Linked DNA regions of Homo sapiens. The protein of the gene in region 3 purifies or fractionates together with the protein of the main gene of each other region. This does not show direct contact. Each region holds a gene or a part of one and is shown on either strand. Other genes may lie near its edges. The genes, in order: HSPBAP1, SLX4 and SDE2.

What was found.
Region 1: the proteins of SDE2 (region 3) and HSPBAP1 purify together in Homo sapiens (affinity purification with mass spectrometry; one large-scale study listed by BioGRID and IntAct). This does not show direct contact.
Region 2: the proteins of SDE2 (region 3) and SLX4 purify together in Homo sapiens (co-immunoprecipitation; one large-scale study listed by IntAct). This does not show direct contact.

What each region holds. Positions count from the first base shown.
Region 1 is NC_000003.12:122,745,234-122,748,885, forward strand, and holds part of HSPBAP1 (HSPB1-associated protein 1), read right to left. Parts: intron 1-3,652. UniProt on the Homo sapiens protein: May play a role in cellular stress response.
Region 2 is NC_000016.10:3,584,103-3,587,717, reverse strand, and holds part of SLX4 (structure-specific endonuclease subunit SLX4), read left to right. Parts: intron 1-49; exon of another isoform or gene 50-782; intron 783-2,846; coding exon 2,847-2,949; intron 2,950-3,615. UniProt on the Homo sapiens protein: Regulatory subunit that interacts with and increases the activity of different structure-specific endonucleases.
Region 3 is NC_000001.11:225,992,692-225,996,343, reverse strand, and holds part of SDE2 (splicing regulator SDE2), read left to right. Parts: intron 1-960; coding exon 961-1,078; intron 1,079-3,341; coding exon 3,342-3,453; intron 3,454-3,652. UniProt on the Homo sapiens protein: Inhibits translesion DNA synthesis by preventing monoubiquitination of PCNA, this is necessary to counteract damage due to ultraviolet light-induced replication stress.

The DNA.
Region 1 (3,652 bases), on a different chromosome or scaffold from region 3:
TTCAGGTAATCTGAGAGATACCTGAAAACCCCAGAAAGTCAATATAAAACTACCACAAAATAAAATAATTCAAATTAACACAAAAATCAATAGCTATCATATACACTAATAATATCCAGTTAGAAGACAGAATGGAAGAGAAGACCTTACCCTAGCAGCAAAAAAAGATGAAATATGGCAGTCCGCCCTTATCTGCAGTTTCGCTTTCCACAGTTTCAGTTACCCGTGGGCAATCTCAGTCAGAAAATATTAAGTGAAAAATTCCAGAATTAAACAATTTATAAGCTTTAAGTTTCATGCAATTCTGAGTAGTGTGATGAAATCTCTCACCATTCCACTCCACACAGTATACATCACCTGCCTCTGAGTCACTCAGTAGTTAGCTCAGTGATCAGATCACTGTCATGGTATTTGCAGTGCCTATATTCAAGGAACCCTTATTTTACTTAATAATAGCCCCAAAGTACAAGAGTTGTGATGCTGGCAATTTGGATATGCCAAAGACAAGGCATAAAGTGCTTCCTTTAAGTGAAAAGGTGAAAGTTCTCGACTTAATAAGGAGAAGGAAAACCAGCATGCTGAGGTTACTAAGGTCTATGGTAAGAAGAAATCTTCTATCTACAAAACTGTCAAGAGAAAAAATTATGGTAGTTTTGCTATCACACCTCAAACTGCAAAAGCTGCAGCCACAGTGCATAAGTGCTTAGTTAAAATGGATTAAGTTTGCATCTTAGCTAAGACATTACATTTGTAGGTGGAAGGCATGAACAGAAAAGTGTTGACTGATTACAATCGGGTTTGGTAATACTCGGGGTTTCAGTAATCCACTGGGGATCTTGGAATATATCCCCCGAGGATAAGGAGATACTACTGTATTTAGGAATAAACATTTAAAAGAAATGTGCAAAGCTTATGTGAGGAAAACTTTAAAACACAGCTGTAAAAACAAAAACAAACAAAACTGAACTTGGATACATGGAAAGGCACCTAATTTGTGGACAGAACAATTCAACATCATAAAGCTCAGATAAAATTTAATATGGATCAAAAAAAAAATCAAAAGGTTTTTTTTTTTTTTCCTAAAGCTAGACAAGCTGATTTTAAAGAACACATTAAAAAAACAGAGGCAAGAATAGCCAGAAAAACCCTGCAAAACAAAGCAATGGTCAGTCCTACTGATGTTAAAACATAAGACCTCACTAAATAAATAGGCAGAAAGACCAATGGACAAAATAGACCCAGATATGTTCAGGTATCTAGTATATGATTAAACAGACATTTCAAATCATGAAGGGAAAACAAACTGTAAAATAAATGATGGTCCTGACAATCCTATTACCATTTTGGAAAAGATAAAATTAGATCTCAGCTCTCTCCTCTCTCCTCTCTCCTCTCTCTCTCCTCTCCCCTCTCCCCTCTCCCCACGGTCTCCCTCTCCCTCTCTTTCCACGGTCTCCCTCTGATGCCGAGCCGAAGCTGGACTGTACTGCTGCCATCTCGGCTCACTGCAACCTCCCTGCCTGATTCTCCTGCCTCGGCCTGCCGAGTGCCTGCGATTGCAGGCGCGCGCCGCCACGCCTGGCTGGTTTTCGTATTTTTTTGGTGGAGATGGGGTTTCACTGTGTTGGCCGTGCTGGTCTCCAGCTCCTAACCGCGAGTGATCTGCCAGCCTCGGCCTCCCGAGGTGCTGGGATTGCAGACGGAGTCTCGTTCACTCAGTGCTCAATGGTGCCCAGGCTGGAGTGCAGTGGCGTGATCTCGGCTCGCTACAACCTCCACCTCCCAGCCGCCTGCCTTGGCCTCCCAAAGTGCCGAGATTGCAGCCTCTGCCCGGCCGCCACCCCATCTGGGAAGTGAGGAGCATCTCTGCCTGGCCGCCTATCGTCTGGGATGTGAGGAGCCCCTCTGCCCGGCTGCCCAGTCTGGAAAGTGAGGAGCATCTCTGCCCGGCCGCCATCCCATCTAGGAAGTGAGGAGTGCCTCTTCCCGGCTGCCATCCCATCTAGGAAGTGAGGAGCGTCTCTGCCCGGCCGCCCATCGTCTGAGATGTGGGGAGCGCCTCTGCCCGGCCGCGACCCCATCTAGGAAGTGAGGAGCGTCTCTGCCCGGCCGCCCCGTCTGAGAAGTGAGGAGACCCTCCGCCTGGCAACCGCCCCATCTGAGAAATGAGGAGCCCCTCCGCCCGGCAACCACACCGTCTGGGAAGTGAGGAGCGTCTCCGCCCGGCCAGCCGCCCTGTCTGGGAGGGAGGTCGGGGGGGTCAGCCCCCCTCCCGGCCAGCCGCCCCGTCTCGGAGGGAGGTGGGGGTCAGCCCCCTGCCCGGCCAGCCGCCCCGTCCGGGAGGGAGGTGGGGGGTCAGCGCCCCGCCCGGCCAGCCGCCCCATCTGGGAGGGAGGTGGGGGGGTCAGCCCCCCGCCCGGCCAGCCGCCCCGTCCGGGAGGTGAGGGGCGCCTCTGCCCAGCCGCCCCTACTGGGAAGTGAGGAGCCCCTCTGCCCGGCCAGCCGCCCCGTCCCGGAGGGAGGTGGGGGGGTCAGCCCCCCGCCCGGCCAGCCGCCCCGTCCGGGAGGTGAGGGGCGCCTCTGCCCAGCCGCCCCTACTGGGAAGTGAGGAGCCCCTGTGCCCGGCCGCCACCCCGTCTGGGAGGTGTACCCAACAGCTCATTGAGAACGGGCCATGATGACAATGGCGGTTTTGTGGAATAGAAAGGGGGGAACGGTGGGGAAAAGATTGAGAAATCGGATGGTTGCCGTGTCTGTGTAGAAAGAAGTAGACATGGGAAACTTTTCATTTTGTTCTGTACTAAGAAAAATTCTTCGGCCTTGGGATCCTGTTGATCTGTGACTTTACCCCCAACCCTGTGCTCTCTGAAACATGTGCTGTGTCCACTCAGGGTTAAATGGATTAAGGGTGGTGCAAGATGTGCTTTGTTAAACAGACGCTTGAAGGCAGCGTGCTCGTTGAGAGTCATCACCACTCCCTAATCTCAAGTACCCAGGGACACAAACACTGCGGAAGGCCGCAGGGTCCTCTGCCTAGGAAAACCAGAGACCTTTGTTCACTTGTTTATCTGCTGACCTTCCCTCCACTATTGTCCTATGACCCTGCCAAATCCCCCTCTGTGAGAAACACCCAAGAATGATCAATTAAAAAAAAAAAAAGAAAAAAAAATTAGATCTCAAACTTATACTATATCCTAGTGAAAAACTTCCAAATGGATAAGAGATCGAAATGCAAAAAACATGAAACAATCTAAATTCTAACACAAAACATTGGTGAATTCCTTTATGACCTGGAAAGGGTCATATGACCTTGGTTTCTAATTATGACTCAAAAACAATAAAGTTCAACAACAGATTTTGTTGGTGAGGCTGTGGAGGAAACAAGCACTTTCACATACTACTAATGGAAATGCAAAATGGCACAATCACAATGAAGCTGAATTTGGCAAAACCTAACAAAATTAAAGATACATTTACCCTATGACATGGCAAATCCATTGTTAAGATCTCCCCCAAAGACACACTTCAACAAATATAAAACAACATATGCACAAGGTTATTCAGTGGCATTATTTGTAATTACAAAAGACTGGAAACAACCCAAACATCTATCCTTAAAGGAACTAATGAACAGTAGAGCACCCATACAGTG
Region 2 (3,615 bases), on a different chromosome or scaffold from region 3:
CCAGAGCCTTGCTTCGGGAGGGTGACTAAGAATTTGCATTTCTAACCAGTTCCCAGGCAGTGCTGTGAGAACAGCTGCAGGAGGCTGCACAGCAGATCTGAGGTGGGCTTCAGGACGACGCTGCGGCCACAGGAAGAATCGTGCTTTTCTCAGGAGACAGAGCCTGCCGCTTTCATCGGGGGCTCAAAGGGCTCCATGGTCATAAAAGGCAGAAGAACCAAAGTCTGACTGTTTCCAATGTGTCACCAGGCTGGAGTGCAGTGGGGCTATCTCGGCTCACTGCAACCTCCACCTCTCGGGTTCAAGGGATTCTCCTGCCTCAGCCTCCCGAGTAGCTGGGATTACAGGCACCCAGCACCACGCCCAGCTAATTTTTGTATTTTTAGTAGAGTCGGGTTTCACCATGTTGATCAGGCTGGTCTTGAGCTGCTGACCTCAGGTGATCCGCCCACCTCGGCCTCCCAAAGTGCTGGGATTACAGGCGTGAGCCACCTCGCCCAGCCTATTATTTTTTAAAGTAACAGCTTTATTTAGATATAATTCACATACCATAATATCCACCCTTTTAAAATGGACAGTTCAGTGCTTCTCAGTACATTCACAGTGTTGTACAATTGTCCCCACTCTCTAATTCTAGAACATTTTCATCATCTCAAAAATCCTGTACCCATGAGCAGTCTCTCACCTTCCCCTTCCCCCAGCCCTGGCAACCAAGAACCTTTCTGTCTCTATGGATTTGCCTGTCCTGGACATTTCATATAAACAGAGCCATATATAACTAATATGTGGCCTTTTGTGTCTGTGTCTGGCTTCTTTCAGTTAGCATACAGTTTTCAAGATTCATACATGTTGTAGCATGGATCAGTATTTTATTCCTTTTTATTCTTTTTTTTTTTTTTTGAGACGGAGCCTCTCTCTGTTGCCCAGGCTAGAGTGCAGTGGCACGATCTCGGCTCACTGCAACCTCCACCTCCTGGGTCCAAGCGATTCTCCCGCCTCAGCCTCCCGAGTAGCTGGGATTACAAGCGCCCATCGCCATGCCATGCCCGGCTAATTTTTTTGTATTTTTAGTACAGATGGGGTTTCACCATGTTGGCCAAGCTGGTCTCGAACTCCTAACCTCAAGTGATCCACCCACTTTGGTCTCCCACAGTGCTGGGATTACAAGCCTGAGCCACTGTGCCTGGCCTGTTTTTGAGTCAGGGGTCTTGCTCTGTCACCCAGGCTGAAGTGCAGTGGCGCAATTACAGCTCATTGTAGCCTCGACCTCCCAGGCTCAAGTGATCCTCCCACCTCAACCTCCTGAGTAGCTGGGACTACAGGCAGCTGCCACCATGCCCAGCTAATTTTTTTTTTTTAGTAGAGACTGGGTCTTGCTATGTTGCCCTGGCTTTGGGCATACATTCCTTTGTATGTCTAATACCCCACTGATGGTATGCCACATTTTGCTTATCCATTCATCTACTAGTGGACACACGGGTTGTTTTTAATTTGTGGTTATTAATAATGCCACTTAGGAATATTGATGTGCAAGTTTTCGTGTAGACATGTTTTCCTTCTTCTTGGTTCTGTACTTAGGAGTGGAATTGCTGGGTCATATGGCAACTGTGTTTAGCATTGTGAGGAACTGCGAGACTGTTTTCCAAAGTGACTGCACCATTTTAAATCTCCACCAACACTTGTTATTCTGTTTTTGTTGTTGTTGTTATTGTTTTGAGACAAGGTCTTGCTCTGTCGCCCAGGCTGGAGTGCAGTGGCGTGTTCATGGCTTGCTGCAGCCTCAACCTTCCTGGCTCAGGTGATCCTCCCACCTCAGCCTCCCGAGTAGCTGGAACCAGCCACAAACAGCTGCCCACATTGGTGACTTGGGCCACCACACCCTGCTAACTTTTTTTGTATTTTTTTTTTTTTTTTTTTGTAGAGATAGGGTTCTGCCATTTTGCCCAAACCCTCTGTGTTTTTTGTTATGGCCATCCTAGTGGGCGTGCAGTGGTATCTCACTGTGGTTTTGACTTGCATTTCCCTGATGACTAATGATGTCGGGCACCTTTTCATGTGCTTATTGGCCATTTGTAGATCTTCTCTGGAGAAATGTCTGTTCACATCCTTTGCCCTTTTTTTTTTTTTTTTTTGAGACAGAGTCTTGCTCTGTCGCCCAGGCTGGAGTGCAGTGGTGTGATCTCGGCTCACTGCAAGCTCCGCCTCCCAGGTTCACGCCATTCTCCTGCCTCAGCCTCCCAAGCAGCTGGGACTACAGGCGCCCGCCACCACGCCCAGCTAATTTTTTGTATTTTTAATAGAGACGGGGTTTCACCGTGTTAGCCAGGATGGTCTCGATCTCCTGACCTCGTGATCCGCCCACCTCGGCCTCCCAAAGTGCTGGGATTACAGGCGTGAGCCACCGCGCCCGGCCCCTTTGCCCATTTTTTAACTGGGTTTTTTTAAATTGATGAATTATTTTTAAAAAGCAAAACTGATGTCTAAGCCTGTTTGAAGAGTATCAGTGTGGCCCATTGTCTCAAGTTGTCACTGTGGGTCAGATATTTTTAAGTTTACATGCATAAGTTTTAGTCACGTGCCGGGCTGTTGGGTTCAGTGGCCCCAGGAGCTCTGTTCACCCGGCACCCGTGTTATACAAGGTGTGGTCCTCAGTGCGTGTCACCGATGCTATCATTGGGAAGCCCCTGCTCCAGACAGGGAAGGGGTGACCACTGTTGCTTTCATGGAGCAAAACGATGCTTGGGTTATCTTCAAGTGCATTATTCCTCTTGGTCACGCTACTGGGATCAGATGTGGGAAATCCGTGTCCCTCATGCTAAAACGTGTGCTTCTTTTGTTTTACCCAGAAGGTGCTAATCGGAAGAAGAACTTGCCCCCCAAAGTGCCCATAACGCCGATGCCACAGTATTCCATTATGGAGACGCCGGTGCTGAAGAAGGAACTGGATAGGTTGGCGGTCTTCAAAGCTTGTTGCCCACAGTGGTCTTTTCCCTCCCATAAGTAACTGGGTTTCACACACCTGGGGGCGGAAGGGCCCCCCGTGTGGTCTCTGGGTCTGGTGGATGCAGCTGGCCTGGGCTTGGGAAGAAAGGTCTGCAGTCAGCTCCTTAGGGAGCATGTGTGACTGCTGGGTGCCGGGGTGAGCCTCCCAGTTCTCTCTGCGTACCATTCCCCAGGGAGGCAACACACAGGATTCGTGCATGTCACCCCTGGGCAGCAGGTCCCCATATTCCATGTAGATGGAAATGGCCCCCTAGCCAGAGCAGTCTGAGTGAGGAGGTCTGATTTTTTTTTTGAAAGACAGAGTCTTGCTCTGTCGCCCAGGCTGGAGTGCAGTGGCGCAGTCCCGGCTCACTGCAACCTCCACCTCCCGGGTTCAAGCGATTCTCCTGACTCAGCCTCCCGAGTAGCTGGGACTACAGGCACACGCCACCACACCAGGCTAATTGTTGTATTTTTAGTAGAGACGGGGTTTCACCATGTTGGCCAGGCTGGTCTCGAACTCCTGACCACGTGATCCACCCGCCTCGGCTTCCCAAAATGCTGGGATTACAGGCGTGAGCCACTGTGCCCGGCGGAGGCCTGATTTTTTTTAAAAGAACATTTAACTCTCAC
Region 3 (3,652 bases):
TACAAAAGGCTTCTAATGTGTAAACATTAAACAGATACAAAATGTATTACATATCTCATTTAATGTTTACAACAGCTCTTTGAGGTAGACAGTATTTTAAAGACAAGAATAGTCGTTCATGTTACCTCATTGCAGATAGCCTGAGCTCCCTTGCTCCTCTCTCCCGCCATTATATTTGTCTGGGAGAACCCCAGACAGCATAAATCCATCTCTCCACCTGTTCTGCCCTGGCATCTGGGCAGTGACTGTGATAGAGAACTATAATCACATAGCTCAGTCTCCATACATCCACCAGCCTGGTGCTGCTTGGTAATTCTGTATTTCCTTGGTCCAGAGTGGGCTTTTACTGGGTTACAGGACTGCTTAGAGTATTGATTCATGTAGGCTCTGGGGCAGCTACACAGAATCTGGGGCTGCCCAGCATCTTAGGCTATCTTCAGCAACTTTGCTCATTTTTGCTCATTTTTCATGTATTTATGTCTCCTATGGTGTACTTATATAGGTGTATTAAAAACCACACTCTTGACTCCTTCCTTCTCTACTTCTTATTCCTACCTGCACTTTTTAGGATTGAGGACTACTTTTGATGTTCAATTTAATTTTACCTGTTTAAGAAAGTCAGAAAATGGGACCTCCACAGTTATTTAATCTGAGTCCTGCATAGTCTTCTACCTTGACTCAGATTACCTATCAGAGAAGAAGAAGCAGTTTTTGTTGTCACCGCAAAGACTGAAGTTTCTTCTATATGTGATGATTAGGTAATATTGGGAAAAAATTATACCCAAAATGCATCATGTGAAATGACTTTTTCTCCTAGTAGTTTACATTTTCAATTCAACAAATATTAATTGAACACCCTCTGTTGTAACCAGAGTAATAAAAAGACAGCTAGGTCCCTTCTTGTAACAAACTTAGATTATTATCTCATAAAAGGCATTAAAAAAACAAATTTGTCTCTAGAATGTTCCAGTGGAAAACTTCTTTGTGAAATGCAATGGAGCACTCATTAACACCAGTGACACAGTGCAGCATGGAGCTGTTTATAGTTTGGAACCCAGACTTTGCGGTGGAAAAGGAGGTAGGACCTGAACATTGACTACTTAGTTGTAACACATTTGCAGTCTTTATTCATTTATTTTCATATTCTGCTGCTGACATTTGCTGTCTTTAGCCATGGTATTAAATTAACAACCTTCTTAGTCTCTTTAGTATGCCAATATTGTTTTACCTTATGAATTCTTTTATTTACTTAACCTGATTTTGGACATTTTCTCTCTTATTCTTTTGTTTTCTTTCTTTTGAGACACTGCCTTGTTTTGTCGCCCAGGCTGGAGTACAGTGGTACGATCACGGCTCACTGCAGCTTTGACCTCCTGAACTCAAGCAATACTCCCACCTCAGTTTCCCCAGTAGCTGGGACTATAGGCACATGCCACCATGCGCAGCTAATTTTTGTATTTTTTGTAGAGATGGGGTTTCGCCATGTTGCCCAGGCTGTCTTTTATTTTGGTCGAGGAAGAAATATTGTGTGATACAATTCCCACTTTGTTCAGCTGGATAGCTCTTAGGGAACCTAGGCTCTAAAACTTTGGGGGAAAATTAGATGAAGAGAGATGGCCATTATTCTGTTCAATTTGCTGAATAAAGAGTTTTTTTTCTAAATCTCCTTCTGCTTTAATCAGGATTTTGTCTCGTTTTTGTAGTTCCAAAGGAAGTCTAAAGTTACCTTAGGAAACACAATTGTTTATAAGTTGAGGCAGATTAAGGTTTTGTTTGTTTAACACAACTACTAGGAAAGATAACAAAGAGCGAAAACAATATAAACAGTTGTTGGTATTTCTCCTAATGTAGTAACATGTGATCCCTAAGCTTTCTCAAAATCTACAGTGATTTGGTTTGGTTTTCAGAGAGCTGACATCTCAGACTATATCCAGCTGTTTGAAATTGTATGATTAAGAATGAAGCGTGGGCTGGGCACGGTGGCTCACGCCTGTAATCCCAGCACTTTGGGAGGCCAAGGCGGGCGGATCACCTAGGTCAGGAGTTCGAGACCAGGCTAGCCAACATGGCAAAACCCCGTCTCTACTAGAGATATAAAAATTAGCCAGGTGTGGTGTTAGGAGCCTGTAATCTCAGCTACTTGGGAGGCTGAGGCAGGAGAATCACTTGAACCTTGGAGGTGGAGGCTGCAGTGAGCCGAGATTGTGCCACTGCACTACAGCCTGGGCGACACAGTGAGACTCTCTCAAAAAAAAAAAAAAAGAATGAAGCATGTGGCCAGGCATGGTGGCTCATGCCTGTAATCCCAACACTTTGAGAGTCCAAGGTGGGAGGACAGTTTGAACCCAGGAGTTTGAGACTAGCCTGGGCAAGATGGTGAGACCTTGGTCTCTACAAAAAAAAAAAAATAGCTAGCTGCATCGGTACACGCCTGTAATCCTAGCAACTTGGGAGGCTGTGGTAAGAGGATCCATTGAGCCCAGGAGTTCAAGGCTGCAGTGAGCTTTGATTACATCAAGCCATTGCCCTCTAGCCTGGATGACAGAGCAAGGCCCCATCTCTTAGGGGGGATAAAAAGAATGAATGAATGAAGCATGTTATATCAGCCAGTGGAGCTTAAAATTGCCTTTCCTTCTAAACTCATTGAAAAATCTCACTATATACTTTTTAAGTTCTTAATCTGAGAATCTTGGGATCTCTGTGATTGTGTAAAGCTTCTTTTTTTTTTTTTTGAGACAGAGCCTGGCTCTGTTTCCCAGGCTGGAGTGCAGTGGCACGAGCTCAGCTCACTGCAAGCTCTGCCTCCTGGGTTCACGCCATTCTCCTGCCTCAGCCTCCTGAGTAGCTGGGACTACAGGCGCCCGCCACCACGCCTGGCTAATTTTTTGTATTTTTTAGTAGAGACGGGGTTTCACTGTGTTAGCCAGGATGGTCTTGATCTCCTGACCTCATGATCTGCCCGCCTCAGCCTCCCAAAGTGCTGGGATTACAGGCGTGAGCCACTGCACCTGGCCTGGGTAAAGCTTTTTAAATATTCTAGCTGTACAGGTATTATACCGGTATGCAAATAACTAACACAAGGATAAATAATTAGGTTTGGGAAGGCTAGGTATTTTATCTCAGAACTATAAAATGAAAGGTGAAAGGCATGAGGTTAAATCAGTCTTTTTACTTTCGCTGCCTGAATTAGAACCTTGATGTTCATCTTTTCTTAAAAAAAAAAAAAAAGAAAGAAAGTAGAGATCATTGTTAATCTTGTGATACAGATTGTTTTCACAAATTCTGCTTTTATCCATCCTTGAACACATTTTAACCTGCTTTCTCCAAATACATCTGCTCAGGTTTTGGATCTATGCTCCGAGCACTTGGTGCTCAGATTGAGAAGACAACCAATCGAGAAGCTTGTCGGGATCTCAGTGGAAGGAGACTACGCGATGTCAATCATGAAAAAGCGTAAGATGCCCACCTTTTTTTGTGTTTTTGAGGAGAGACATATACTTTCCTATTAGTAGTGATTATACATATGCCACGCATATTGGAAATGGAAACTTAAAATATTTACATCCAAATTTATTATCAGATTTAACCTTTTCCATAATTTAATAATCATCTTTGGGATTAAGTTCAGTACCATATGCTAGTAGTAAGCATG